4 linked regions of the Homo sapiens genome follow. The protein of the gene in region 1 purifies or fractionates together with the protein of each later gene. This does not show direct contact. Each region holds a gene or a part of one and is shown in the gene's direction. Other genes may lie near its edges.

Region 1 (7,025 bases):
TTTTGTTTTGTTTTTTGAGACAGAGTCTTGCTCTTGTCGCCCAGACTAGGGTGCAATGGCATGATCTTGGCTCACTGCAACCTCCGCCTCCTGGGTTCAAGTGATTCTTCTGCCTCAGCCTCCCAAGTAGCTGGGATTACAGGTGTGTGCCACCACACCCGGCTAATTTTTGTATTTTTAATAAAGACGGGGTTTCACCGTGTTGGCCAGGCTTGAACTCCTGACCTCAGGTGATCCATCTGCCTCGGCCTCCCAAAGTGCTGAGATGACAGGCGTGAGCCACCACACCTGGCCTATTTTCTAAGTTTTTTAACAAATTAATTTTGAGACTGCTTCCTCTGTTTCAACAAAAATGCATTAAAAACCTACTGTGTGACAGGCTGTGGCTAGATCAAGATGAATAATACCAAAAAGTAACTCATTGGTTAGAGGGGAGAAGAAACGTGCACCAAGAGTTCCAGTACCAGAGCTTGCTGCTCAGTGAAGCTGCAGGATGCCTGTGTGGCCCCAGGAGGGAGGGACGTGCTGCTGTGGCTGGGAAGGGAAGGGGGGCAAATCTGCCGGCATAGTCCCTACCCAGAGCAACTAGGTGATGGGGTTTTGTCAGATCTCTTCTGTTAGTCACCTGTGACCCCGCAAGCCTTTCCAAGTGGTAGGTCACCAGATTCTGCTGCATGCACTGGGTTTCTACTCAACTGGATTTAGAGTTCAAACATCTTTGGCATAAAAAAGAAATACATAAAGACAACCCTTAAGGGTTCACAATAAAAACTGATTTACTCCCTCCTATCTATAGATTACAAATTGAACACCCTGTAACCATGGCTAAAATTGCCATGATTACTCGGCACACAGTTAAGGCTGGGCGCAGTGGCTCGTGACTGTAATCCCAGTGCTTTGTGGGGCTGAGGCAGAAGGATTATTTGAAGCCAGGAGTTCAAAACAAGCCTGGGAAATATAGTGAGATCCTGTCTCTACAAAAAAATAAAAATAAAAAATTAGCTGGGCATGGTGACACTCACCTGTGGTCCCAGCTATTCGGGAGGCTGAGGCAGGAGGATCATTTGAGCCTGAGAGATCAAGCTTGCAGTGAGCCATGTTCACGACACTGCACTCGAGCCTGAGTGACAGAGTGAGACCCTGTCTCAAAAAAGACCCCCCCCCACACACAATTAAACATAATATTGAATATGACAACTAGCTAGAATATTTCGTGGAATTAAAAAGAAATGCTAACTGGCCGGGCATGGTTGCTCATGCTTATAATCCCAGCACTTTGGGAGGTCAGGAGTTTGAGACCAGCCTGGCCAACATGGCAAAACCCCATGTCTACTAAAAATACAGAAATTAGCCTGGAGTGGTAGTGCATGCCTGTAGTCCCAGCCACTTGGGAGCCTGAGGCAGGAGAGTCACTTGAATCCAGGAGGCAGAGGTTGCAGTGAGCCAAGATCACACATACTGCACTCCAGCCTGGGAGACCAAAAAAAAAAAAAAAAGAAGAAAAGAAATACTAACCTTGGCAAGGTCTAGAACTGTTGTATTAATTTTGAAACATGGGAGTAAATATAGACACACTGATGGTGGCTTTGACTTTCTGCTCCCCCAGGCTCCTCAGTGGTTGGAAAGTGATTCTTGTCAGAAATGTGAGCAGCCATTTTTCTGGAACATAAAGCAGATGTGGGACACCAAGACGCTGGGGCTAAGACAAGTGAGTAGCCACTGTCGAGTCATCTCTGGCTTGATTGTGTATTTCACTATTTGCATACTTAATCTGGGGTTTTTTTGAAACACACTTTGTTTTTGCAAATGCTATTAATTCCTACATTTTCTATGTCTTTATCATTGTGTGACTAACAATGAGGAAGACCTTTCCCAGGGCCAGTGAGACTGTTACCTCACTTTTCCATTGCTTGTCCTGTATTGGAAAGGCAGGGGTGCGTAGAAAATCCTGAGAGCCTATTTTTAAACAGATAAAAGATCTTTCAGTTTAAGACTATTACTTATTAAAGTCAGTGTTTTATGCTAGCCAAGAACAAAATTAGAATAAAGTCATACAGTTATATACCTTATGCTGTCACAAACAGATAAAAAGTAATAATTTAGTCCTCACTTGAATGCCTGACCCTATGAGTTTTAGATTATTTTAAATTGTTCCCTTATAAGCATACCTGGAATATTTTTATTAAGCATGTTTTGAGTACTGTTTTTTAAATTTTTTAATTAAAGAAATATGTTCCAAATAGCCTGTAGATTTTAAAGGTGCTGTTAAAGGATTCTTGTAATACTAAAGTTCTACAAAAAAAAAAAAAAGCAGGTAAGTAAAAAAGAATGCTGATTTTATTCCTTTTATTATTGGTTGCATCTCTATGAGCGATTAGCCTAAAGTTTGTATGTGTTAATAAACTTTTTTGGCCCTGCATGGTGGCTCAGGCCTGTAATCCCTGCACTTTGGGAGGCCGAGGCAGGTGGATCACCCGAGGTCAGGAGTTTGAGACCAGCCTGGCTAACATGGCGAAACCCTGTCTCTCCTAAAAATACAAAAATTAGCTGGGTGTGGTGGCGGACGCCTGTAATCCCAGCTACTCGGGAGGCTGAGGCAGGAGAATCACTTGAACCCAGGAAGCGGAGGTTGCGGTGAGCCAAGATCACGCCACTGCACTCCAGCCTAAGTGACAGAGCGAGACTCCATCTCAAAAAATAAATTAATTAATAAATAAAATCTAAAAAATTTTACTCAGAGATACTCCACAGTAAGGTCTCATATGAGACTGGCAGGCAAGAAGGGAATTATTAGTGCTCAGACCATTATAAAGCTCTGAAATAGCACCTGAGTTCTGTCTGTCATTAGCCAAGTTCTCACAATGCATGGCTGATGGTAATTAGTGCAGTATAATTAATAGGTGAAGTATTCCCTACTTCTAAAGGAAACACAGAGAAATGGATTTTACTTCCATTTATTAACAGTTAACAGAAGAGAGAAGAGGTGCTGGTCACTAAACTTTTGGCGGTAAAAGAATATGTCAAAATCAGTAATAATAATTGGACTATTTTGTAATGTTCTTGAGGCTTATTTCCAGAATCACAGTTTGAGAGATTTTAGAAAATAGCAAAATACATGATTATGGGCATTAGTTTCTTAATGAGAGCATAGTGCATTTAAAACTTATTTTAGACCGGGTATGATGGCTTATGCCTGTAATCCCAGCATTTTGGGAGGCCAATGTGGAAGGGTGGCTTAAGCCCAGGAGTTTGAAACCAGCCTGAGCAACATGATGAGACCCCGTCTCTATAAAAATAAATAAATAAAACTTATTTTAAAACCCTTTAGGCTGGGCATGGTGGCTCACACCTGTAATCCTAGCACTTTGGGAGGCCGAGGCAGGAGGATCACTTGAGCCTAGGTGTTCAAGACCAGCCTGGACAACATAGCAAGACCCTGTCTCTGCAAAAAAATCAAAAAATTAGCCAGACATGGTGGCAGACACGTGTAGTGCCAGCTACTTGGAAGGCTGAGGTGGGAGGATCGCTTGAGTCTGGGAGGTCAAGGCCGCAGTGAGCTGTATGCCATTGCACCTTTGCATTCCAGTCTAGGTGACAGAATGAGACCCTGTCTCTGAAAAAAAAAATAATAATAATGCCTTTTTTATGATGGAGGAATAAATTTTTCTTTCCCTAAATCTACAGTGATTAGGCTCCTAAATGAACTAAATTTGTTGTTAATAATATTGTTTGTTAACATGTAGACAGATAATATGAATGAATGAAAAGCAACATTTGACCAGTACAGCAAAGTTTTTTGGAAATCCTTGACTAGTGTCAGAATTGTCTATCTTGTGAGTGTTAATTGATACATTGAATTGGGGTGATTGCAATTCAAGGCATATCCTCCCCGCTCCTGTTGCCCTACTTTAGAGGGAAACCATGTGCTTTAAAGCAAAAGCTAGGCCAGGCGCAGTGGCTCACGCCTGTAATCCCAGCACTTTGGGAGGCTGAGGCAGGTGGATCATGAGGTCAGGAGTTCGAGACCAGCCTGACCAAGATGGTGAAATCCCATCTCTACTAAAAATACAAAAATTAGTCAGGCGTGGTGACAGGCACCTGTAATCCCAGCTACTTGGGAGGCTGAGGCAGGAGAATTGGTAGAACCCGGGCGCCAGAGGTTGCAGTGAGCCGAGATCACGCCACTGCACTCCAGCCTGGGTGACAGAGTGAGACTCTGTCTCAAAACAAAACAAAAAGCGAAAGCTAACACCCTGTTTTCCTCCTCCCGGTCACCTGTGAAGCATCACTGCAGGAAATGCGGGCAGGCTGTCTGCGGGAAGTGCAGCAGCAAGCGCTCAAGTTACCCAGTCATGGGCTTCGAGTTCCAAGTCCGGGTTTGTGATTCTTGTTACGACTCCATCAAAGATGAAGAGTGAGTGTTTGCATATTTTTGTCTCATTGCCTCTTATTACATCTGTCTAATGGTTCTCTGAAATGTGAAGAGCTTCAGAAGTGATAGGATATGTTTAGCCATGTGTTTGTTTCTCCTGAATTTCCTAAGCCATTTTATTTGTTGTTTGTTTTTTGAGACAGAGTCTTGCTCTGTCACCCATGCTGGAGTGCAGTGGCGTGATCTCGGCCCACTGCAACCTCTGCCTCCCGGGTTCAAGCGATTCTCCTGCCTCAGCCACCCGAGTAGCTGGGATTACAGGCGCCCCCCACCACCTGGCTAATTTTTGTAGTTTTAGTAGAGATGGAGTTTCACCATGTTGGCCAGGCTGGTCTCGAACTCCTGACCTCAAGTGATCTACCCACCTTGGCCTCTCAAAGTGCCAGGATTACAGGCGCGAGCCACCGTGCCTGGCCCCTAAGCCATTTTTGAAGAGAGGACCTGCCCTAGCTTTATGACTTAAGACCATGACTATGCATCTTAAGTTGCCCCTCTGACTGGGCAGCTTTCTCCTGAACACAGTGAGGAATGCTAAGTTACATGGTCCAGTAACTGAGTGGATACCCTGAGCCTCTGCATCCCACTGGCTGCTATGCAGGGATAAGTCCATGCACCTGTGGATGGCAGTGGTTGAGCTGGTTCTCTATAAAAGTATCCAGTGCCCAGACCTTTGTTCACACATGCATGTAAATTTACTGGGAAAACTCTAGAGACCAATGTTCTTTCTTCCACAGAAATCTGGCCTAGCAGTCTATTCTTAAATTGCTCTTTGTGTGTAAGACACATCTGTTTGATACCCCACTCTGCCCTGACTTTTAGGCAAATCCGTTAGGACAGAACCACTATTTTCTTTCCTTCCCTTTGAATCATCTTTTAAAGCAGCAGAGGCAAATGTTGGCAGAGGTCCACATTGGAAAGCTAGTGCATCACGACTGGTGTTGGTAAATGAACTAGTGATGGGATTGGGGCAGCTGGGCTTTGAAGCGGGTGCTGTAAGAGGCACTGCTCCTGTGCATGGCAGAGGTTTCAGGGAAAACGGCAGCTCTCTGATGTTTTGCCCATGCTGTATGATTTTATTCAATGCAGTTCTTCTTTTATATTGAAGATTCTTGTTTTTATATCTAGGAATGTATCAGCCTTTCCAGTAAAAAAAAAAAATCAGTTATTTTGGGAATTTTATAAAACAATCTTGTGATTTAACATGCTTTCTGTCATCATTAAATTATAAGGTTAGTTTTCAAAACCATAGCCACAATTTTAGGAGCAAATTTTAACACTATTATCATAAGCATTTACTTTTTTTTTTTTTTTTTTTTTGAGACTGAGTCTTGGTTGATCACCTGGGCTGGAGTGCAGTGGTACAATCTCGGCTCACTGCAGCCCCCACCTCCCAGGTTCAAGCGATTCTCCTGCCTCAGCCTCCCGAGTAGCTGGGATTACAGGCGTGTGCCACCACACAGAGCTAATTTTTATATTTTTAGTAGAGACGGGGTTTCACCATGTTGACCAGGCTGGTCTTGAACCCCTGACCTCAAGTGATCCACCCGTCTCGGCCTCCCAAAGTGCTGGGGGTACAGACATGAGCCACTGCACCTGGCCATATTTGCTTATTTTATGTTGCTAAAAAAGCTTACCCCACTAGCTCTAGGTACAGTCAAGTAAATTTTCAGTGATCTCTTTTCTCTTGTTAGTCGGACTTCTCTAGCGACCTTTCATGAAGGAAAACATAACATTTCCCACATGTCCATGGACATTGCCAGGGGACTGATGGTGACCTGTGGGACCGACCGCATTGTAAAGGTAAGCTGGCTAATTGTCTGTCAGCATCTCAGTTGAGATTGCCTATTACCATGCTGTGAATGTGCAGGAGACAGTCACTCTTTCTGACTGGCAAGCTTTATAAGCAAATGATTGCCAGTTTAAAACCTTGAGTAACAAATTGCTTGCCTCTGAGTTTCCATGCATTCATTGGTGGTCAGTCCCAGTGGCACCTCCCTCTGCAGTGTCTGTCTGGCAGAGTGAGTCTGGCACCCTGTATATCCCTATGGGTGGAGTTGACCTCTGGGTTCTCCCTTGCTGGCCTGGGTCCTCACCCCTGACCCATCTCAAGACATTCCTACGCTTGCCAATGTTCCTTTTCATCCTGGGCAGAATGCGTCCTCAGTATAAGGAATAACCACACATTTTAACAATTAAATCCCTGGGTCACTAACACATAAATTGAAATGAAGTGTTTTATACTTAGTACCACTCTTTTTTTTTTTTGAGATGGGTCTTGCTCTGTTGTCCAGGCTGGAGTGCAGTGGCACAGTCACTACTCACTGCGGCCTTCACCTTCCAGGCTCAAGCAATCTTCCCACCTCAGCCTTCCAAAGTAGCTAGAACTACAAGTGCCTGCCACCAGGCTTGGCTAATTTTGGGGGGATTTTTCATAGAGATTGGGTCCTACTATGTTGCCCAGGCTGGTCTCAAACTCCTCGGCTCAAGCGATCCTCCCATCTCAGGCTCCCAAAGTACTGGGATTATAGGCATGATCCACCATGCATGGCCTAAGTACCACTCTTCAGTGGTGAAACTGAGATATTCTATATTC
Region 2 (7,025 bases), on another chromosome or scaffold:
CACCCATTGAAAGTGGACAATTCAGTGTTTTTTAGTATACTCACAGATTTGTGCAACCATCACCATAGTCAATTTTAGGACATTTTCATCACCTCAAAATGAAACCTTGTTATCCTTTTCCTAACACTCTCCTATCTCCTCACCCCACCCCACCCTTCAGCCCTAAGAAACCACTAATCTACTTTCTGTCTCTGTTGATTTCCCTATTGTGGACCTGGCATATTCATGGATTCAAATAATATGTGGCCTTTTGTTACTGGCTTCTTTCAGTCAATTAGCATAATATTTTCAAGATTCACCTGTGTTGTAGCATGGAGAGTACTTTATTTTTTTTATAGCCTAATAATTCATTATGTGGGTATACCACATTTTATTTATTCGTTTGTCAGTTGATAAACACTTGTTTGCACATTTTTGGCTATTATGAATAATGCTACCATAAACATTCATGTACAAGTTTTTGTATGGACATTTGTTTTTTCCTGGGACATATTATTTCCCTGGGAAATAATAGGAGGGAAATTGCCAGATCATTTGATAACTCTACATTTAATCATTTCAGGAAGTATCAGACTACATTCAGATGAGATCGGGTGCGTTCAGGGTGGTATGGCCATAGAAAGGTCAGGCTGTATTCAAAAGTGGCTCATACCAATCTATATTCTACAGGCGGTGTACGAGGGTTCCAATTTCTCCACATTCTTACCAACATTTGTTATTATCTGACTTCTTTATCCTAGCCATTGTAGTGGGTATGAAGTGGTATCTCATTAACTTAACTTGCATTTTCTTAATTGGTAATGATGTTGGTCATCTTTTCATGTGCTTACTGGCCATTTGTATATCTTCATGAAAGAAATGTCTGTTTATACTCTGCTCATTTTTAAATTGGATTATTAGTCTTTTTATTATTGTGAGAATTCTTCATCAATTCTGGACACAAGTCTCTTATGTATTATTTGCGAATATCTTCTCCCATTCTGTGCATTGTCTTTTCACTTTCTTGATGATGTCCTTTGACCCAAAAAACTTTTATGACGTCCAGTGTGTCTATTTTTTTGTTTGTTCGTTCCTTGGTATCTATCTCCTCTGCCAAATTCAAGGTCAGGAAGATTTACCCCTGTGTTTTCTTCTAAGAGATTTATAGTTTTAGCTCTTACATTTAGATTATTGATTGATTTTGAGTTAATTTTTGTATGTGGTGTGAGGTAAGGGTCCAGCTTCATTCTTTAGCATGTGGACATGCAATAGTCCCCACACTATTTTTTAAAGAGAATATTCTTGCCTCCAGTTAATGGAGTTAGCATCCAATTAAAAAATCATTTAGACTGTACATGTATGGATTTATTTCTAGACTCTCAACTGTCTTCCATTGATCTATACATCTATCCTTGTGCCACCACACTGTCTTGATTACTGTTGTTTTGTAGTAAGTTTTGAAATCAGGAAGCGTGAGTCCTCTTTGTATTTTTCAATATGGTTTTGTCTATTCTGGACCTCTTGCAATTCTATATTAATTTTGGAATCAGTTTTTCTACAAAGAAACCAGCTGGGATTCTGATGGGAATTGCATTGAATCTGTAGATCAGTTTGGGACATATTATTATCTTCACTAGGTTAAGTCTTCTAATACATGAATATGGGATATTTTTCCAATTATTTAGATCTCATTTAATTTCTTTCAACAATGTTTTATAGTTTTCAGAGTATAAGTTTTCCACTTCTCTTGTTAAATTTATTACTATTTTATTCTTTTTGATGTTTTGTAAATGAAATTGTTAATTTCATTTTTGGATTGTTGATTGCCAGTGTATAGAAATACAATTGATTTTAATATATTTATCTTGTATCCTGCACCCTTGCTAAACTCATTTTAGTTCTAATAGTTTTTTAGTGGATTCCTTAGGATGTTCTTATAGATCATGTCTTTTGCAAATAGAGATAGTGTTACTTATTTTCCAATCTGGATGCCTTTTATTTCTTTTTCTTGTCTAATATCTCTGGCTAAAACCTGTAGTATAATACAGTGTTGAATTTAGAAGTAATGAAAATGGATGGACAGCCTTGCTTTGTTCCTGATCTAGGGGGAAAGCATTCAGTCTTTCTCCATGATATATGATGTTACCTGTATGATGTATATAGCGTGACATTATTAGATGTTGATTTGTTGGCCAGCCGAGGTGGCTTACGCCTATAATCCCAGCACTCTGGGAGGCCAAGGCAGGTGGATCACCTGAGGTCAGGAGTTTGAGACCAGCCTGGCCAACATGGTGAAACCTCGTCTCTACTAAAAATACAAAAGTTAGCTAGGTGTGGCGGCGGGCGCCTGTAATCCCAGCTACTTGGGTAGGAGAATGGCTTGAACCCAGAAGACAGAGGTTGCAGTGAACCGAGATGGAGCCATTGAGCCTGGGAGACAACAGCGAAACAATCTAAAAAAAACAAAGATGTCGATTTGTCATAGATGCTCTTTATCAAGTTGAGGAAGTTCCCTTCTGTTTCCTAGTTTGTTGAGCATTTTTATATGAAAGGGTAATGAATTCTATCAAGTGCTTCTTCTATTTCTATTGAGATTATCATGTAATTTTTTTATTCTGTTGATATGATGTATTTTATTAATTGATTTTTAGATATTAATCTAACCTTCTGAGATAAATCTCACTTGGTTATGGCATATAATTATTTTTATATGTTGCTGAGGGGTTTTTTTCAGCCATATTCCTAAGATATACTGGTCTGTAGGTTTTCTTTGCTTTGTTTTTGTTTTTTTAATGTCTGTCTCATTTTGGTATCAGGGTAATGGTGACATCACAAAATGAGTGAGAAATGTTCCCTCTTTTCTATGTGGAATGGTTTTTGAATAATTGGTATTAATTCTTCATTGAATGTGTGGTAGAATTTATTGGTGAAGCCATCTGGACCTTGGTTTTTCTTGTGAATATTTTTTGGTTACTAATTCAATATCTTTACTTGATATAGGCTTATTCAGATTATCTCTTTCTTCTTGATTCGGTTTTCTTCTTGAGTAGTTTATGTCTTTCTATAAATGTGCCTAATTTGTTGGTATATAATTGTTCATAGTATTCCTTTATAATCTTTTTTTTATTTCTGTAAGGTCAGTAGTAATGGCTTCTCTTTATTTCTGATTCTAGTAATTTGAGTCTTTTTTTTTTAAGTTTCTTTCTTTTTTTAAATTTTTAGTGGAGAAAGAACTTTATTTTTTTGTTTGGTTTTTGGGTTTTTTTAGAGACAGGATCTCACTCTGTCACCAGGCTAGAGTGCAGTGATGCAATCACGGCTCACTGCAGCCTCAACCTCCCTGGGCTCAGGTGATCCTCCCACCTCAGCCTCCCAAGTAGCTGGGACTACAGGCGTGCGCCACCACATCCGGCTAATTTTTCTACTTTTTGTAGAGACAGAGTTTTGCCATGTTGCCCAGGCTGGTCTGGAGCTCCTGGGCTCAAGGAATCTACCAGCTTTGGCCTCAAAATGCTGGGATTATAGGCTTGAGCCACTGCACCTGGCCAAGAACTTTTCTTTTTTATAATTTCATCTTTTATTTTAGATGTGGGGGTACATATGCAGATTTGTTACATGGGTGCATTGCATGATACTGAGGTTTAGGGTATGACAGGTCCCGTCAGCCAGGCAGTAAGGATAGTACTCAATAGGTGGTTTTTCAGCCCTTGTTTAATGGCTGAAAAATCCAACATCCGATTACTCTCAGACATTTTTTCTCCTTGTGTCCAAATGTATAGGTTATACTTTTCTGTTTATTGGCATGCCTTGTAATTTTTCATTGGAAAGTAAATTTTTAGATCATATATTGTAGCATTTCTGGGTACAGCTCCCCCTCCTTTTGGGGGCTTTTTATTTGCTTGTTTGCTTAATGAGTGGCTCAATTATTTTAGGGAAACATATCCCACTACCTCCCCAGACCCCAACAGTATTGTGCCTCTGATGTTGCTGTTCAGGGAGGTACAGTTTTAGGTGTGCCCACAATTACCCTGGGATGACACTTGCTTTGGTAGGGCTGCCTTCCTCTCTTTCCGTGAACATAGTGACTGTAAACTCCAGTAGATGCTGGCTCCTTGCTTGATTATTTGCAACAGTGCCTTAGGGCATAAATTGCTCTATAAACTAATCCAATCAAATTCTGGCTCCTTTGTAGGGATTGCATACGAGAGCAGTGCTGGATATTTATTCTGACTACAGAAGGGCTCGTCCCAGCTGTCATATTCCCTAGTTTTCTCCTGCAAACTAACTAGCCTACTGTTCAGCCTGTATCTTAAATCTCCTCCCATTTCTCTCTCACTATAACCACCACTGTTCTTTAATGGTTCCCCAACCTTTTTGGCACCAGGGACCAGTTTTGTGGAAGGCAGTTTTTCCACAGACCGGATCACCCAGCTTGTGATGGGTTTATGTGGATGGTTTCAGGATTAAAGTGTTCCACCTCAGATCATGAGGCATTAGATTCTCATAAGGAGCATGCAGCCTAGATCCCTCACATGTGCATTTCACAATAGGGTTCACACTGCTGTGAGAATCTAATGCCGCAGCTGATCTGCCAGGAGGGGGAGCTCAGGGGGTAATGCTTATGCTTCCTGGCTCACCACTTACCTCCTGCTCTGCAGCCGGGTTCCTAACAGGCCTTGGATGGGTATTGGTCTGTAGCCCGGAGGTTGGGGACCCCTGCTTTAGAGCACCCTTAGGCTTCAGCTTCTCCAAGCTCTGTTGCAGGTGAAGTCAGTTCCTTTGAAAAGAAATGAGGAGCTCCCTGTTTTATGGCCTACTTGTCTTTTCCGCCCTCCTTTCCCCCTCCCCCGACAATATCCCTGAGCCAGGACTAGAGCTGAAATTGGGGACAATGGCAGTTTTCTCTCTGAGTGACATCCTCTGCCCTAGGAGCTGAGTTTTCAGTGGACTTGTGGGGAAGAGATGAGGAATAGCCTCAGGCCCTCTTGAGTAACCTCCTGGTGTAGAACCATCCCCCTCATGAGCCAGAGAAAGAGTCATCGGGGCCCAGCATTTTCAACACACTGTGCCCAAGGTGAGCCCCTGTTCCATGAATGGGGCTGACTGGAGGAAGGGATCCCCCACCTCACAATTGCATTTGTCCAGGATATAACTGCAGCCACAGGGAGCTGGGGACAAAATGAGAAACTCTGATGTCCTGGTCCTCCTGGGAGGGAAGCTTCTGACTCGGAGTTGGGGGAAAAGAGGGCCCTGTGCTTTTGGCTGTAGCCGTCTGGCGTGGACTTTGCCTTGCTAAGCTGGGAGTGGGAAGAGGGGAAGGAGTTTTGGCTTAAACACTGCAGACTCTCTTTTTCACCAAATTTTTGCAGATTTTCTTGAATAGATGTTTCTTCATTTGCTATTTTTCCCTTAGGTCAATTTTCAGAGGCTTTAACTGGTTAATATTTTATAACTTTTAGTTTCACTAGGGAGCAGGTCAGCAGAACTTTCATGCTGTCATGCCAGAAGTCCATCTCAGCAATTACTTTTGAGTTGAACTTTTATCAGAAAAATAGCTTTGTAGCTGAGGAGGGGCAAGGAGATTTAAAAGACTGTATCTCCTTTGTCACAGCTGTTTCATGTCATTTTGTAATTCAGTCTTAAAGCCTGTGTCTAGTAGTGATTTTTGCTGTTGAGTGTGATAATACATAAACAACTTTGGAATTTGCCCGCAACATTGGTAACACATTTCACTGACATACTCTTTAATAATTGTTTATTACCTATTATTTCTTTTTACCTAGGAAGTATCAAAACTCCGCTGTCAGCTTGCTAAAAAAAAACAAAGTGAGACAAAACTTCAAGAGGAATTGAATAAAGTTCTAGGTATCAAACACTTTGATCCTTCAAAGGCTTTTCATCATGAAAGTAAAGAAAATTTTGCCCTGAAGACCCCATTAAAAGAAGGTAAGACATGAATAAATGTATAAAAGTGTCCTCTTCCTTTGGATTTGCTTTTATAGCATTTAGCAAGTCATCCATTTTATGAACTGTGAAAATTTGTTGACACCTTCTGATAAAAGCAGTTCTTACTGAGATTGTTGTGTACAATGACTGTTTTCTTCCTCCTTCTACGCTTTCTTTTCTGTATACCTGGATTCTGCCTGTTCTTCAAGGCAAATCTCAAATCTTCCTTGAAGCTTTGCATGACTATTTTGTCCCTGTCCACACACCCCAAATTACTCCCTCTATAATACCCTTAGCATTTTAACCTAAATGTCTCTTAGGTCCTTAATCATTTTCTGATTTGTAGTTTTAGAGAAGTAAATTTCTTATTTCTTGACTGTGAATGTTTGTCTTTCACGATAAATTAAAGTTGGTTGAAATGATAAATCTAAAAATTATCTTACAGAATATATTGCTTCATCTGCCTTAAAGAAGATACAAGGCCTGTTTTTAGTTTATAATGATGGATAAATTCGTTTTAATCTAGATTACTAATCCTTCTTTTCAATAATTCTTCTAGGCAATACAAACTGTTACCGAGCTCCTATGGAGTGTCAAGAATCATGGAAGTAAACATCTGAGAAACCTGTTGAAGATTATTTCATTCGTCTTGTTGTTATTGATGTTGCTGTTATTATATTTGACATGGGTATTTTATAATGTTGTATTTAATTTTAACTGCCAATCCTTAAATATGTGAAAGGAACATTTTTTACCAAAGTGTCTTTTGACATTTTATTTTTTCTTGCAAATACCTCCTCCCTAATGCTCACCTTTATCACCTCATTCTGAACCCTTTCGCTGGCTTTCCAGCTTAGAATGCATCTCATCAACTTAAAAGTCAGTATCATATTATTATCCTCCTGTTCTGAAACCTTAGTTTCAAGAGTCTAAACCCCAGATTCTTCAGCTTGATCCTGGAGGTCTTTTCTAGTCTGAGCTTCTTTAGCTAGGCTAAAACACCTTGGCTTGTTATTGCCTCTACTTTGATTCTGATAATGCTCACTTGGTCCTACCTATTATCCTTCTACTTGTCCAGTTCAAATAAGAAATAAGGACAA
Region 3 (7,452 bases), on another chromosome or scaffold:
AAAAAAAAAAAAAAAAAAAGGGGGGCACTCTTTCATCCACCACAGTGAGGTAAAACAAGCCCCATTGTTTTGTTAGAATACCTAGCACAAGCTTTCTGAACGCATTTACTTCTCCCCCCAAACCAAAGCTTTGCATATAGAGAAGCGCATGTGCAAAATGATTTATATTCTCAGAGGAATCAGCAGTGAAAGAACTTTCCGTTTCCCAGTGTGATTGATTTATTATTATTATTATTTTTTTGAGACAGAGTCTCACTCTGTCACCCAGGCTGAAGTGCAGTGGCGTGATCTTGGCTCACTGCAACGTCCGCCACTCAGCCTCCCAAGTAGCTGGGACTACGGGCACACGCCACCATGCCTGGCTAATTTTTTTTTTTTTTTTTTTGTATTTTTAGTAGAGAAGGGGTTTCACTGTGTTAGCCAGGATGGTCTCCATCTCCTGACCTGGTGATCCACCCGCCTTGGCCTCCCAAGGTGCTGGGATTACAGGCATGAGCCACCATGCCAGGCCTCCTAGGGTGATATTTGAAAAAAAGAAATTTATGGATGGGCTGGGCATGGTGGTTCATTCCAGCACTTTGGGAGGCTGAGGCAGGAGGATCACTTGAGCCCAGGAGTTCGGGATCAGCCTAGGCAACATAGTGAGACCCCCATCTGTACAAACCATTTAAAAATCAGCCAGCCGAGTAGTCCCAGCTACTCGGGTGGCTGAGGTAGGAGGATCACTTGAGCCCGGGGGATTGAGGCTGCAGTGAGCTGTGATCACACTGCTGCATTCCAGCCTGGGTGACAGAGGGAGACCCTGTCTCAAAACAAGAAGTTTGTGTGTAAGGTTTTAGGTTAGTTACAGTGAGAAGTACAAAATAAGAAATATTATCTTCATTTTTAACACCTGTAATCTCAGCACTTTGGGAGGCCAAAGCCGGAGGATCTCTTGAGCTCAGGAGTTTGAGACCAACCTGGCAACATAGCAAGACCTCCTCTCTACAAATAAAAAAATTAGCTCGGTGAGGTGGCTCACTCCTGTGGTCCTAGATCCTCAGGAGGCTGAGGTGGGAGAATCACTTGAACCTGGCTGGTCAAGGCTTCAGTGAGCCATGATTGCACCATTGCACTCCAGCCTGGGCAACAGAGCAAGACGCCTTCTCAAAAAATAAAAAATAAAATAAAACGTGTTAATACAGATTCAATTACTCAATTTTGACAATGTCAAGTCGGTTAATAAAAGCACTATGCCCAGCCTAGGCAACACAGTGAGACCCTGTCTCTACAAAAATTTTTAAAAATTAGCTGGGAGTGGTGGCATATACTTGTAGTCCCAGCTACTCATGAGGCTGAGGCAGGAGAATGGTGTGAGACCAGGAGTTCGAGGCTGCAGTAAGCCGTGACTGCACCACTGCACTCCAGCCTGAGCAACAGAGCAAGACCCCGACAAAAATAAATAAATAAGAAAGCACCTTTACCGTTCATAAAAAAGCCCTATGAGTAAGCAAGCATTGTCACTTTTATGGTTGTATCTTTTGATAACATATCAACATAAAGCAAAAATATTTTACAACTTCAGTGCACTAAAACATCTATTTTTCTTTTCCAAGACTTTTCCATAGGATACCTAGTTTTTAGTTATGGGATGATTATGGATAGGCTAACATCTTTTCACATAGTAGCTGCAATTATTCCTGTTTCACCTAAGAGGAAACAAGTTCAGAACTGTCAGATGCCCTCCAACCAATAGGGATTGAGGCAATTTAGGAATTTAACTTTACATAAGTCTCGTCCAACCACACTGATTATTCGTCCCCAAGTAACAGAACCATTTAAGAATGATGGGAAAGCTCGGTCAAATTTTTATTTATTTATTTTTGAGACAGAGTCTCACTCTGTTGCCCAGGCTGGAATGCAGTGGTGCGAACTCGGCTCACTGCAACCTCTGTCTTCCAGGTTCAAGCGATTCTCCTGCCTCAGCCTACCGAGTAGCTGGGATTAGAGGCCTGCACCACCACGCCCAGCTAATTTTTGTATTTTTAATAGAGACTGGTTTTTACCATGTTGGCTAGGCTGATCTTGAACTCCTGACCTCAAGTGATCCACCTGCCTCAGCATCCCAAAGTGCTGGGATTACAGGTGTGAGCCACCATGCCAGGCCTTCAGATTCTTAATGGAACCTGATATCATGGGTGTTAGATCACTCCTTTCCTCTTTTCCTTCTCTTTTCCCATTAATCTCACTTTTTCCTTTCCTGTTTCTTTTTCTGTCTTGATCTTCACCTGCTTCTTTTTACAAGGGCAACATTAATACTGTTCTCTTTGGACTGTGCTAATCCTCCCACTCTTCTGCTCAAGACTGGTGTCACACCTTGTTTTTCATTCTTAAATCTTACATACATCATAAGATCATTTATTAGATGAATATTTTTTAATTAATACACTTAAATTTTATTTCAGTAGCTTTTGGGATATAAGTGGCTTTCTGTGATGTGGGTGAATTATATAGTGGTGAATTCTGAGATTTTAGTGTGCCCATCACCTAGGTAGTGTATATTTTATCTAATATGTAGGTTTCTATCCCTGTCTCCCCTTCCACCCTCCCTCTTCTGAGTCTCTAAATTCCATTATATCACTGTGTTTGCCTTTGTATATTCACAGCTTAGCTCCCACTTACAAGTGAAAACATACGGTTTTTGGTTTTCCACTCCTGAGTTACTTCACTTAGAATAATGGCCTCTAGCTCCATCCAGGTTGCTGCAAAAGACATTATTTTGTTCCTTTTTATTGCTGAGTAGTATTCCATGGTGTATATATACCACATTTTCTGTACCCACTCGGTCGATGGGCACTTAGGTTGGCAATTGTGAATTGTGCTGCTGTAAACATACATGTGCAAGTGTCTTCTTCATATAATGACTTCTTTTCCTTTGGGTAGATACCCAGTAGTGGAATTGCTGGACCAAATGGTAGAACTACTTTTTGTTCTTTAAGGAATCACCATACTTTTTTCCATAGAAGTTGTACATTCCTACCAGCAGTGTTTAAGCATTCCCTTTTCCCCACATCCACGCCTACACTGTTTTTTGACTATTGTTTTTTGAGGTTTTTTTTCTTTTTTAGACAGGGTTTCAATGTGTTGCCCAGGCTGGAGTACTGTGGCACAATCATGGCTCACTGCAGCCTCAGACTCATGGGATCAAGGGATCCTCCTGCCCCAACACACGGCCCCCCGCCCCCCGCCCCCCGCCCCCCTCCCAGTACCTGGGACTACAGGTGCTCACCACTACACCCGGCTAATATTTGTATTTTTGTAGAGACGGGGTTTTGCCATGTTGCCCAGGCTGGTCTTGAACACCTGGGCTCAAATGATCTGCCCAACAGGCCTCCCAAAGTGCTGGGATTACAGGTGTGAGCCACTGCGCCCGGCCTTTTTTTCTGACTTTTTAATGATGGCCATTCTTGCAGGAGTAAGGTGGTATCTCCTTGTGGTATTAACTTGCATTTCTTCGATGATCAGTGATGTTGAGCATTTTTTCATGTATTTGTTGGCCATTTGAATATCTTTTGAGAAATATCTATTCATGTCCTTTGCCCATTTTTTGATGGCATTATTTTCTTTCTTGCTGATTTGAGTTCCTTCTAGATTCTGGACACTAGGCCTTTTTCCGATGCATAGTTTGCAAATATTTTCTCTTAATCTGTGGTTGTCTATTATTTCTTTTGATGTGCAGAAGCTTTTTAGTTTAATTAGGTCCCATTTATGTATTTTTGTTTTTGTTGCATTTGCTTTTGGGGTCTTAGACATGAATTCTTTGCTTGGGCTGATTATTAGACGAACATTTATTGAGCACCAACCATATACGACAAACGATGTACTAGGTGTTGGGAATACAATGGAGAACTTACATGAATCACCAGTCACACAAATCTCTTTTATCTTTTTTTTTTTTTTTTTGCCTTACTTGAGAATTTGGGTTTTTGAGTAAACGCCATTATTCTCTCTTTTTTTAAGCACACTTTTGCATCTCAACCACCTAACACACTGCATCCCTGAGCAACCCGGAGGGGCCGGTTCCTGCACCCAGGCCAACACAACTTAAACCCCAACACACCAGAAGAGGAATAAAGGCCAACCAACTTCCGCCCACCCACTACAAACGTCGAGAGAAATTCGTAGATGAGGCCTTGTCAAAATTCAGAGGCGTCCTACGTCTGCTTTCCCAATGAGACAGTTCCTTTTTGTTTGTCTCAGAGACTGGGGTTTTTTTTTTTTTAAAAGACTGTAGGCAGAAAAAACACCCCAACCGGCTGTTGTGACAATCAAACGTGTCTAAGAAAATTCAGCCAATGAGAGTGCGAGAGTGCATCTTGTGTTGGCCAATGAGAACAGCGACCCGTGCGCAGGGCCGCCCAATGGGGCGCAAGCGACGCGGTATTTGAATCCTGGAACAAGGCTACAGCGTCGAAGATCCCCAGCGCTGCGGGCTCGGAGAGCAGTCCTAACGGCGCCTCGTACGCTAGTGTCCTCCCTTTTCAGTCCGCGTCCCTCCCTGGGCCGGGCTGGCACTCTTGCCTTCCCCGTCCCTCATGGCGCTGCTCCGACGCCCGACGGTGAGTGTGCCCGGGGACCGCTCTCAGAGGCGAGTCCGTCGGCCCCACAGCTCCCCTGTCGCTTCTCTCATCTGCTCCGAGCTTCTCCGTCCCAACCGGGGCTGCTTTTCTCTTCTCCGGAGCTCACTGCTTCGCCCGCGTCCCTGGCCCTGCGGCCGGTCCTCTCCGGCCCGCCTTTCCCCGTCTGGATTCCGCCCTCCCCTAACCCCTCCCTGCCCCGGGGTGGGAGAAGTGTAGGAAAGCGCTTCCGAGATGGCGCCTGTCAAGTGAGCCCCCAGAGCACTAGGCCTAGTACTCAGCGAGCGATCCCCGAGTGCTCTTCATTGCTAGAGAGTTATCTACTTCCACGTTCCTGGGATTTCCCTCCCCCTTTCTTACAACTCCTTGCCAACTAAGGGACCTGTGATGGCGGCTGGGAGGAGGACTGGAAGGGTTCTGTAGGCAGTAAAGTGTACGGCGTGTTTCATCAGGCAACTGCCAGGCTGTTTTTCAGATTGTTCACATTTCTTTTTGTATGAGTTTCCCATTTATTTCGGCACGCTAAGTCTTCCATGCTACGTTCACTAATAAATGGGTTTGTCCCCTTAAAAAATTAATTTCTTTACTCAAATGTAACAGAGGTTTTTGAATATAATTTGGACCAATGTGGCAGACTGAGAGAAAAGGGTCCAAATTCATTTATTTCATCCTTGCAGAGATCAAAGTGTTATGGTGTTTTGGGTATTTTTCCTGTGGGCTTGAATTGTACCGGGACCTACTTTTTTCCTTTGCCGAAAGCTAGAGGGCCCTGACACACCTGAGTTCCATCATCTTGGCTATAAGGTTAGATAAAAGCTGCCAATTTTCCTATCCAGATGAATTTAAATTGAGTCACATTACCAGGCTTCTACCCATAAGCATTACATTTTCAAACACTTTTTCAGATTGGCAGTTGCTGCTGGAAGAAATTGAAGTGTGACTTTTGAGAATCCTAATAGATTGAATACATTTAGCATTTAATTAATATCCTTTTGTGGATCTAAGTCCAACTGACAAGTAATTTTTTATAATAATGTATTCTATAACGTTATTTAATAGTCAAAACCTTTCTGTTCAGGGAAGGCTTGAGTTTCCCTGGCCCCTCTCTCTGCCTGGTAGATCCACTCAAACCCCTTGTTGGGAGTTTTATTAGAGTCGGGACCCTGAACTCTCAGGGATAGGACATGCTGGTTTTTTGCTTTTTTCTTTTTTAATGAAATGTTTATCACTTCTATAATAAACTTTTTTTGGTATGAGTTGCTTTTCCTAGCAAGTTTTATTTCCAAGCACATTATGTCTAAAGCAGGTTAAGGTCAACTGACAATTTTTATTTCATACAATTCCAACCTTCCCTGAGTTTGGGAGCTAAAACTATATTACTCAAGAAAACTACTTCCATTCTAAATGTCCTTAATATAAGAGAAAATCCATTCTATGGCAACCTCATTTTAAAAAGCTGTAGTTCTAAAAGATCATGCATACAGGAGCATTTCTTATTTGTGAAATGGCATAAGAATCAAAGCTAGTTTAGGTTTTAAACATCTGGTTTTTAAACAACCAGACCTATTATTAACTATTAATATTATAGCTTTATTATTTTTCATCTTAATTTACTTTTTACCAAGCTCTGTAAAGGAAGGTTTTTAAATATATGCCTTTAACTTGCAGGGATCTCTAACAAGTGATATGGGTACTATATGAGAAATAATCATTAAATACTAATAAGCTTTGAAGTTCTCTTACAGGCCCACTTGAATACTCAGAATAGCTTTGCAAGGTTAGTGGGAGGATCTTTATTACGGATAAAGTAGATGGGTGATTTGCCTAATTTAGAGTGATGTTATTAATCACAAATAGCATTTTTAGACTTCCTGAAATGTACCTTTTCCATCTTGCAAATAGATCTTGACGTATTGTCCTTTCCCAAAGCAATTCTAAATTTGAGTATCTAACATTAGCAAAGTATTTCAAATTCTTTCAAGGTTTCATTACTTTTTTTTTTTTTTTTCAGGTGTCCAGTGATTTGGAGAATATTGACACAGGAGTTAATTCTAAAGTTAAGAGTCATGTGACTATTAGGCGAACTGTTTTAGAAGAAATTGGAAATAGAGTTACAACCAGAGCAGCACAAGTAGCTAAGGTAACAATGATGAAGACTGAATGTGAATACAGAGGCCGATTCTGTATAGTGCTGAGTCCCACAACGCTGGCTGTCTTGCGCTATTCATGTTTCTTTTTCCTTATAGAAAGCTCAGAACACCAAAGTTCCAGTTCAACCCACCAAAACAACAAATGTCAACAAACAACTGAAACCTACTGCTTCTGTCAAACCAGTACAGATGGAAAAGTTGGCTCCAAAGGTAGGAAGTTCTGAATTTACAAACGTATTTAATGAGGTAGCCTGTTTTTAGCCAGACTACAAGGGTGCCTTTATCATTGCTGTACCTTCTAACGAACATTCATAGCTGGAGCTCTGCTTTGAAGCAATAGTGTAGGAAATGAGTATATACACCTTTTAACTTAATAACATTATGACCTTGAAGCTGGGCATGGTGGCTTATGCCTGTAATCTCAGCACTTTGAGAGGCTGAGGCAGGAGGATCGCCTGAGGCCAGGAATTCAAGGCTGCAATGTGCTATAATGGTGCCACTGCACTCTAGCCTGGACAGCGGAGCAAGACCTTGTCTCTGAAAAAAAAAAATAAATATTACGACCCTGAATAATAAAGTTGATTACCTTAATACCCAAATAAAGGACAGAATGGTTCAGAAAATTCATGGAATGAGTGAGATTTTTAGGGGTAGAGAGAAGATGATAGCTGACAGGAAAGGGCACG
Region 4 (7,025 bases), on another chromosome or scaffold:
GCAGAATATCCAAGTGGAGGTGGCCAGGAGGCATCTGGGAACACATAGGGGACTGAGGCTCAGTGGTGTTAGTTCATTACTACCTGACTGCAAACCTCCGCCGACTCATGAAACTCCCCTCGTGTCATGTCATTTTGCCTTTTGTAGCAGGGCCGTGGATTTGTGATGATGGACACTGTGGCCCTGTGGCTAGAAAATAGGGGCTTAGACCAGGCACGGTGGCTCACGCCTGTAATCCCAGCACTTTGGGAGGCCGAGGCGGGCAGATCACAAAGTCAAGAGATCGAGACCATCCTGGCCAACATGGTGAAATCCCATCTCTACTAAAAATACAAAAATAAATTAGCCGGGCCTGGTGGCGTGCACCTGTAATTGCAGCTACCCGGGAGGCTGAGGCAGGAGTGTCGCTTGAATCTGGGAGGCAGAGGTTGCAGTGAGCTGAGATTGCGTCACTGCACTCTAGCCTGGCGACAGAGCGAGACTCCATCTCAAAAAAAAAAAAAGAAAAGAAGGGCTTAGAGGACTGAGCTCTGTGACTGGATAGGTAAGGGGAGATCACCACAGAGAGCACCCTAGACTCGGAGCAGGAGACCTGCCTGCTAGCCAGCCTCTGCCCTGACTGCCTGTGCAACTGTGCTGCTCTCCCCAGACAAATGACCGGGAGCCATGACGTCATCGGGGGCGCAGGAAAGCAGGTGCTCTGCTGCTTTTGCAAGCAGAGAAATAAGAGTTTGGGCACCTACCCAGGGGTCCCAGGGAATGCCCTGTGGCTCCTGACCTCCCCCGCCTGTAATGCTCTGAGCACTTCAGCAGTAATGCATGGAAGAGATAAGGGTCTGTGACCCATGGAACTGTCCAAGTCCTCTCTGACACCCGCTTCTTTTCCTGCCGTGAAGGTAAGCCACTTTATAGATCCTAGGCCTGAAACCCAATGTTGGGAGGGAGTGTTTGTTTTCAAGAAGAAAGAGAGACTGAAACTAGAACATGCACATTTCTATCCAGAAGAAAACAGTTGGAGTAGACTAGAGTCCTACAAAGAGGGCAACAGGGAAGAAGATTCTGGACTGAGTAAAGGGGACCCACTCCTGGGTCCACCTCCTGCCTGGGCCCTCTGGAGAGAGAATTGGCCAGATTCAGCCCTGAGTCACAGCACCCTCCCCAGTTGCTGCCTCACAGCCATCTCCACACCAGCAGCCATGCCCCCAGCGGCAGCTCGCCCACACCTCTGTGGGACCTCCCCACCGTCTCGCAGCCCATCTGCTCCAGGCTTCTACTGACGATTTCGTATTTCACATGGACTCATTTCTCCTCAGACACTCCAGATGGGGAATGCCTTTCTGCAATATCAAAGTGCCCCATTAGACTGGGGAGGAATCATGAGGGGACATACCCCTGCCCCTGCCACAGAGTCGAGCATGGCAGCTGAATATCTCTCACACTGGCATGGCCCCCATCCTCTGGAGAAAGGAGGCCTCAGTGCAGTCAGCCTCTTCAGGAGGCAGAAATGTTGAGAAGTTCTCGCCACCCCTGCTGGGTGACTTTGGGGAGGTGTCTCCTCAGACCTCTGTTTCTCCATCTGGACGGTAAGCATGCTTGAAAGGTTGGGTTTTTGTTTGTTTTTTGAGACCGGATCTCCCTCTGTCTGCCAGGCTGGAGTTCTGTGGCGTAATCACGGCTCACTGCAGCCTCAACCTCCCAGACTCAAGCGATCCTCCCACCTCAGCCTCCCAAGTAGTTGGGACTACAGGTGCTCGCCACCACACCCTGCTTTGTTGTTGTTGTTGTTGTTGTTGTTGTTGTTGTTGTAGAGACAGGATTTCGTCATGTTGGCCAGGCTGGCCTTGAACTCCTGAGCTCAAACGATCTGCCCACCTCGGCCTCCCAAAGTGCTGGAATTACAGGCATGAGCCACTGTGTCTGCCAGCCAGATAGTTTTTGATGTGCCAAGGTTCATTCCAGACCATCTCCCACATCTTCTACCTGTCTTGTCACTGTGCCTTTACTCTCTCATCTCCTCTACCAGCACAGGCTCTTCTGGGGGTAATACTGGGGCCAGTTCCTCTTGGCATCCCTACCTGCCATGTCAGGGAAGGATTGCTGAATCTGGTCCACAGGTTGGCTCTGGGGAAAGTATAGTGTTGGAAGCTGGAGCTGAGATCTCCTGTTTTCTAGAACATGTGGTGAAGGAGACTTGCCAGCCATAGATGCTGACAGCTGAGAGATTAGGGGGGCTTTGTTAAGGAGTGGATAGGGTGCCTTCAGGAGAGTGCTCTGACAGAGTCCTGCATTTGCACTGACCTTGCAGCCAGTTTCAGAGAAGCTTGGGGTGTTATGACAGCAAAGGACAGGCCACCAGGAGCCAAGAGCATCTTCATGGCAAGGCAAGTCAGCATGGGAGCAGTGAAAGTCTAGAAAGGATTGTCATTCACATGCACACGTATGTTTATTGCGGCACTATTCACAGTAGCAAAGACTTGGAACCAACCCAAATGTCCAACAATGATAGACTGGATTAAGAAAATGTGGCACATATACACCATGGAATACTATGCAGCCATAAAAAATGATGAGTTCATGTCCTTTGTAGGGACATGGATGAAATTGGAAATAATCATTCTCAGTAAAGACTACTGCAAGGACAAAAAACCAAACACCGCATGTTCTCACTCATAGGTGGGAATTGAACAATGAGAACACATGGACACAGGAAGGGGAACATCACACTCTGGGGACTGTTGTGGGGTAGGGGGAGGGGAGAGGGATAGCATTAGGAGATATACCTAATGCTAAATGACGAGTTAATGGGTGCAGCACACCAGCATGGCGCATGTATACATATGTAACTAACCTGCACATTGTGCACATGTACCCTAAAACTTTAATAATAATAAAATTTAAAAAAATTTAAAAAAAACAGGATTGTCATTTGCAGTCCGGACAGCTGAGTGACCCACTGTGGGCCTTGAAGATAGATGGAAATGACACTAATCATGGCCATTCATTGTCAAATCTTTGAGAGAGAATAATAATTAAATTCAGCAGTGTCACTGGTACAGAAGGAGGAGCACTGAGCCTGGAGTCATAAATCTCAAACCATTTGTTGAGTACTTAGAACCGATCTTTGGCTAGTAAGCATTTACACATTTTTCTTTCATATAAAAGGACCTGAGTTTGAATCCTGGCAAGGCACTTCACCTTTCTGAGCTTGAGGAATGAATCCTGGCACAGTTTTCCTCATCTGCACAACAGGAATGGATGATTATATTGTCTGTGTCAAAAGATGATACAACCTTTTTTTTTTTTTTTTTTTTGAGACAGAGTTTCACTCTTGTTGTCCAGGCTGGAGTGCAGTTGTTCAGTCCCGGCTCACTGCAACCTCCACCTCCTGAGTTCAAATGATTCTCCTGCCCCAGCCTCCTGAACAGCTGGGATTACAGGCACCCACCACCATGCCCAGCTAATTTTTGTATTTTTAGTAGAGATGGGGTTTCACCATGTTGGCCAGTCTGATCTTGAACTCCTGATCTCAGGTGATCTGCCCGCCTCGGCCTCCCTAAGTGCTGGGATTACAGGTGTGAGCCACCGCACCTGGCTGATACAACTATTATGTAAGCAAATATATGTATAAACACGTAGCATAGCTTTCAGTCCAGGCACGTTTTCCTTTCTTTCTTTAGACCAGTGGTTCTCTATTCTAACTGAACATTTAGAATCACTAAGGGAACTCTTTCAAAATACCAGGGCTGGGGCAGTATTCCAGACCAATTAAAATAGAATGTCGGCAGCAGAGGGGGGCGCGGGGGACCCAGGCTTTAGGGGTCCTTCCCTTTCTTTCCCTGTTTCCTTTTTCCTTTCCTTTTCCCTTTCTCCTTTCCCTCTCCCTAGTGAAGCTAATGTACTTTGCACAGTGTTAGCAATTATCACCCATTCATCAGGTATTAATTCATTTCGATCCCAAGGGCATAGGCTTGATGTACAATAAGGAGTTAAGGACTGTGAGTTCTCTGATAAGGTTTGGTTATAGTCATTTCTCACTTCTCACCCTCTCCAGGACTACTTCCAGCAACCCAGTCTCCTGCCATGTCCGACCCCATCACGCTGAACGTCGGGGGGAAGCTCTATACAACCTCACTGGCGACCCTGACCAGCTTCCCTGACTCCATGCTAGGCGCCATGTTCAGCGGGAAGATGCCCACCAAGAGGGACAGCCAGGGCAACTGCTTCATTGACCGTGACGGCAAAGTGTTCCGCTATATCCTCAACTTCCTGCGGACCTCCCACCTTGACCTGCCTGAGGACTTCCAGGAGATGGGGCTGCTCCGCAGGGAGGCCGACTTCTACCAGGTGCAGCCCCTGATTGAGGCCCTGCAGGAGAAGGAAGTGGAGCTCTCCAAGGCCGAGAAGAATGCCATGCTCAACATCACACTGAACCAGCGTGTGCAGACGGTCCACTTCACTGTGCGCGAGGCACCCCAGATCTACAGCCTCTCCTCTTCCAGCATGGAGGTCTTCAACGCCAACATCTTCAGCACCTCCTGCCTCTTCCTCAAGCTCCTTGGCTCTAAGCTCTTCTACTGCTCCAATGGCAATCTCTCCTCCATCACCAGCCACTTGCAGGACCCCAACCACCTGACTCTGGACTGGGTGGCCAATGTGGAGGGCCTGCCAGAGGAGGAGTACACCAAGCAGAACCTCAAGAGGCTCTGGGTGGTGCCCGCCAACAAGCAGATCAACAGCTTCCAGGTCTTCGTGGAAGAGGTACTGAAAATCGCTCTGAGCGATGGCTTCTGCATCGATTCTTCTCACCCACATGCTCTGGATTTTATGAACAATAAGATTATTCGATTAATACGGTACAGGTAAAAGGACCCCAACAACACTGGAGATGGGGAGTCCCAGGAAGCTCATGTCAGCCAGGTCTTGGAGGGCATCTCGCCAGTGGTGCGAGGCAGGGGACTATACTAATCTGTATTAATTGTGTAGCAGGACTTGATTCCCCCCATGATGAAGTCCACCTTTTGGAATCCAGTGTCCTCTGAACAGAACCACCTTTTTTCTTGCCATTTTGAGCTGCAGACAGGCGGTTTATTATGACAAGTGAAGAGTCAGCTGATGTGTACTAAAGGAGGCCATAGGAGGATTTTCCAGCCAGGACAAAAGAGCAGCAGTTTTCTCCTGGGCTCCATCTCTCTGTACCGCTAGCCAGTGCCGCATTTATCCATCTGTAAGAAGGCCCTGGTGGAGAGGATGGGATGAGAACAAGAGGCTACCTCCAGTTAACCAGGACATAAAGTCCCCAGCGGTTCCTGTCACACCTGCTCCTCCCTCCCCAGGGTGCATCCATGATCGTGGATGTTTGCCCAGGGGTGACCATGTTTGGCTGGCTTGGAATGCTGTGCATTCTCAGAGCTCTGTTAGTGTCCCCTCTTGGGGGTCAGAGATGAGGTGTGGCAGGGTCTAGAGGAATGAGTGTCCAGGCAGAGTTCAGAAGGTAGGAATGTCCCTCTTGATAGGGCTGAATCAAGGGATTCCTGGCTTTAGAAAGGGTCTGCTATCTTTGCAAAAATGTGCAAGTATCTGTAGCCAGTGTAATGAAATCACTTCCAAATCCAGCCTGTTACCTGACTTTTGTCATTGTTTTCCCAAAAATTTGAGGTATCATTGAAACAGGTCATTTTAAACAAATCTATTACGGATTCTCAGGGTTGGAAATAATTCGATGATTGCTTAGTCCTCCCCCACCCCTAGAACACCCCAGCACATCTGAAGATGAGCGCCTCTCCCTGGGTACCTGCAAGTGATCACCTTGGCCTGCTTGCATACCTTGGCTGATAGGAAGCGCGCCATCCCCAAGGCAGCTCCTGCTGTGGTTGGACAGTGCTGACTGTTAGACAGTTCTTCCCTATATTGAGCCAAAATCTGTCCTGCCACTTGCTGGATCTTGGTTGCAGACCTTCCCATTCACCCAGTTATATATCTTTGCTTTCAAAATAGTCACCTTGAGAGACCAGACATTTTTCTGAAAACATCATTACTCAGAATTCAGATTCCCCTCTGGGATCTGTCTTCAGAATCAAAGTTAGCTCTTTTCTATCCCCTGTAAGTCAGTCCCCTTTTGTTGTAGCTTCACCTCGTTTGTGACCCCCACTTCACCCACCTTCCCCACCATCTGTGGCTCCATATACCTTTCGACCATTTTCTGCTGGAAGAGGAAGATTCACGGCCCCTGAGGAGATCCAGAGGAAAGAGACGGTCTCCAAGGGTGCTGTGCAGCAAGGAGCCCAGGAGTGGTATGAACCGTAACAGTGCCCTTAGAGTAAATGTGCGGCCCCTAAGACCCTGCCCTCAGGAAGGCGGCCTTCCCCTGCAGTCCTGTGTCCCACCCCTGGGTCTCTGTAGGGTGCCATCCAGGGCAAGCAACCCAAGCACTGCTTCCCACCGGGTGATGAGCCATGCAGGCCTCCAAACTGCACGTCATGATTCATCCCTAAAGTGAGTTTGGCCTTGAGAGTCCCCAGGGTCCTCCCCCACTGGGCAGGGGTCCTCAAAGCCAAGGAAGCCTGGTGACACAGGCACCCATGGGAGGTGGGCCCAGAAAGGGGCTTCCCATAGATAGGCCCTGTGAGTAGGGAGCTTGTACACTGGGCCATGGGCAGCGCCAGTTCCCTTGAGCAGTAAAGGCCCTTTTCCCCCTACGGTGGGACCCAGGAGTCTCTCTGACAGCTTTTCTGCCAGGCACAGTGGCTCATGCCTGTAATCCCAACACTCTGGGAGGCCGAGGCGGGAAGATCACTTGAGGTCAGGAGTTCAAGACCAGCCTGGCCAACATGGTGAAACGTCGTCTCTGCTAAAAATACAAAAATTAGCTGGGTGTGGTGACAGGCGCCTATAACCCCAGCTATTTGGGAGGCTGAGGCAGTAGAATCGCTTGAACCCAGATAGCAGAGGTTGCAGTGAGCTGAGAGTGTGCCATTGCAGAGAGACTCCATCCCAAAAAAAGACAGCTGTCCCAGGCCAAGGGTACT

The links.
Region 2: the proteins of WDFY1 (region 1) and HMMR purify together in Homo sapiens (affinity purification with mass spectrometry; 2 studies listed by BioGRID and IntAct, with this or other methods). This does not show direct contact.
Region 3: the proteins of WDFY1 (region 1) and CCNB2 purify together in Homo sapiens (affinity purification with mass spectrometry; 2 studies listed by BioGRID and IntAct, with this or other methods). This does not show direct contact.
Region 4: the proteins of WDFY1 (region 1) and KCTD21 purify together in Homo sapiens (affinity purification with mass spectrometry; 2 studies listed by BioGRID and IntAct, with this or other methods). This does not show direct contact.

The regions. Positions count from the first base shown.
Region 1 is NC_000002.12:223,879,331-223,886,355, reverse strand, and holds part of WDFY1 (WD repeat and FYVE domain-containing protein 1), read left to right. Parts: intron 1-1,606; coding exon 1,607-1,708; intron 1,709-4,283; coding exon 4,284-4,414; intron 4,415-6,123; coding exon 6,124-6,232; intron 6,233-7,025. UniProt on the Homo sapiens protein: Positively regulates TLR3- and TLR4-mediated signaling pathways by bridging the interaction between TLR3 or TLR4 and TICAM1.
Region 2 is NC_000005.10:163,484,628-163,491,652, forward strand, and holds part of HMMR (hyaluronan mediated motility receptor), read left to right. Parts: intron 1-4,623; exon of another isoform or gene 4,624-4,756; intron 4,757-5,762; coding exon 5,763-5,925; intron 5,926-6,484; coding exon 6,485-6,537; 3' UTR 6,538-7,025. UniProt on the Homo sapiens protein: Receptor for hyaluronic acid (HA). Involved in cell motility. When hyaluronan binds to HMMR, the phosphorylation of a number of proteins, including PTK2/FAK1 occurs.
Region 3 is NC_000015.10:59,100,695-59,108,146, forward strand, and holds the start of CCNB2 (G2/mitotic-specific cyclin-B2), read left to right. Parts: upstream 1-4,451; 5' UTR 4,452-4,574; coding exon 4,575-4,598; intron 4,599-6,627; coding exon 6,628-6,756; intron 6,757-6,862; coding exon 6,863-6,976; intron 6,977-7,452. UniProt on the Homo sapiens protein: Essential for the control of the cell cycle at the G2/M (mitosis) transition.
Region 4 is NC_000011.10:78,171,610-78,178,634, reverse strand, and holds part of KCTD21 (BTB/POZ domain-containing protein KCTD21), read left to right. Parts: intron 1-649; exon of another isoform or gene 650-1,504; coding exon of another isoform or gene 1,505-1,583; intron 1,584-4,051; coding exon of another isoform or gene 4,052-4,080; coding exon 4,081-4,863; 3' UTR 4,864-7,025. UniProt on the Homo sapiens protein: Probable substrate-specific adapter of a BCR (BTB-CUL3-RBX1) E3 ubiquitin-protein ligase complex mediating the ubiquitination and subsequent proteasomal degradation of target proteins. Promotes the ubiquitination of HDAC1.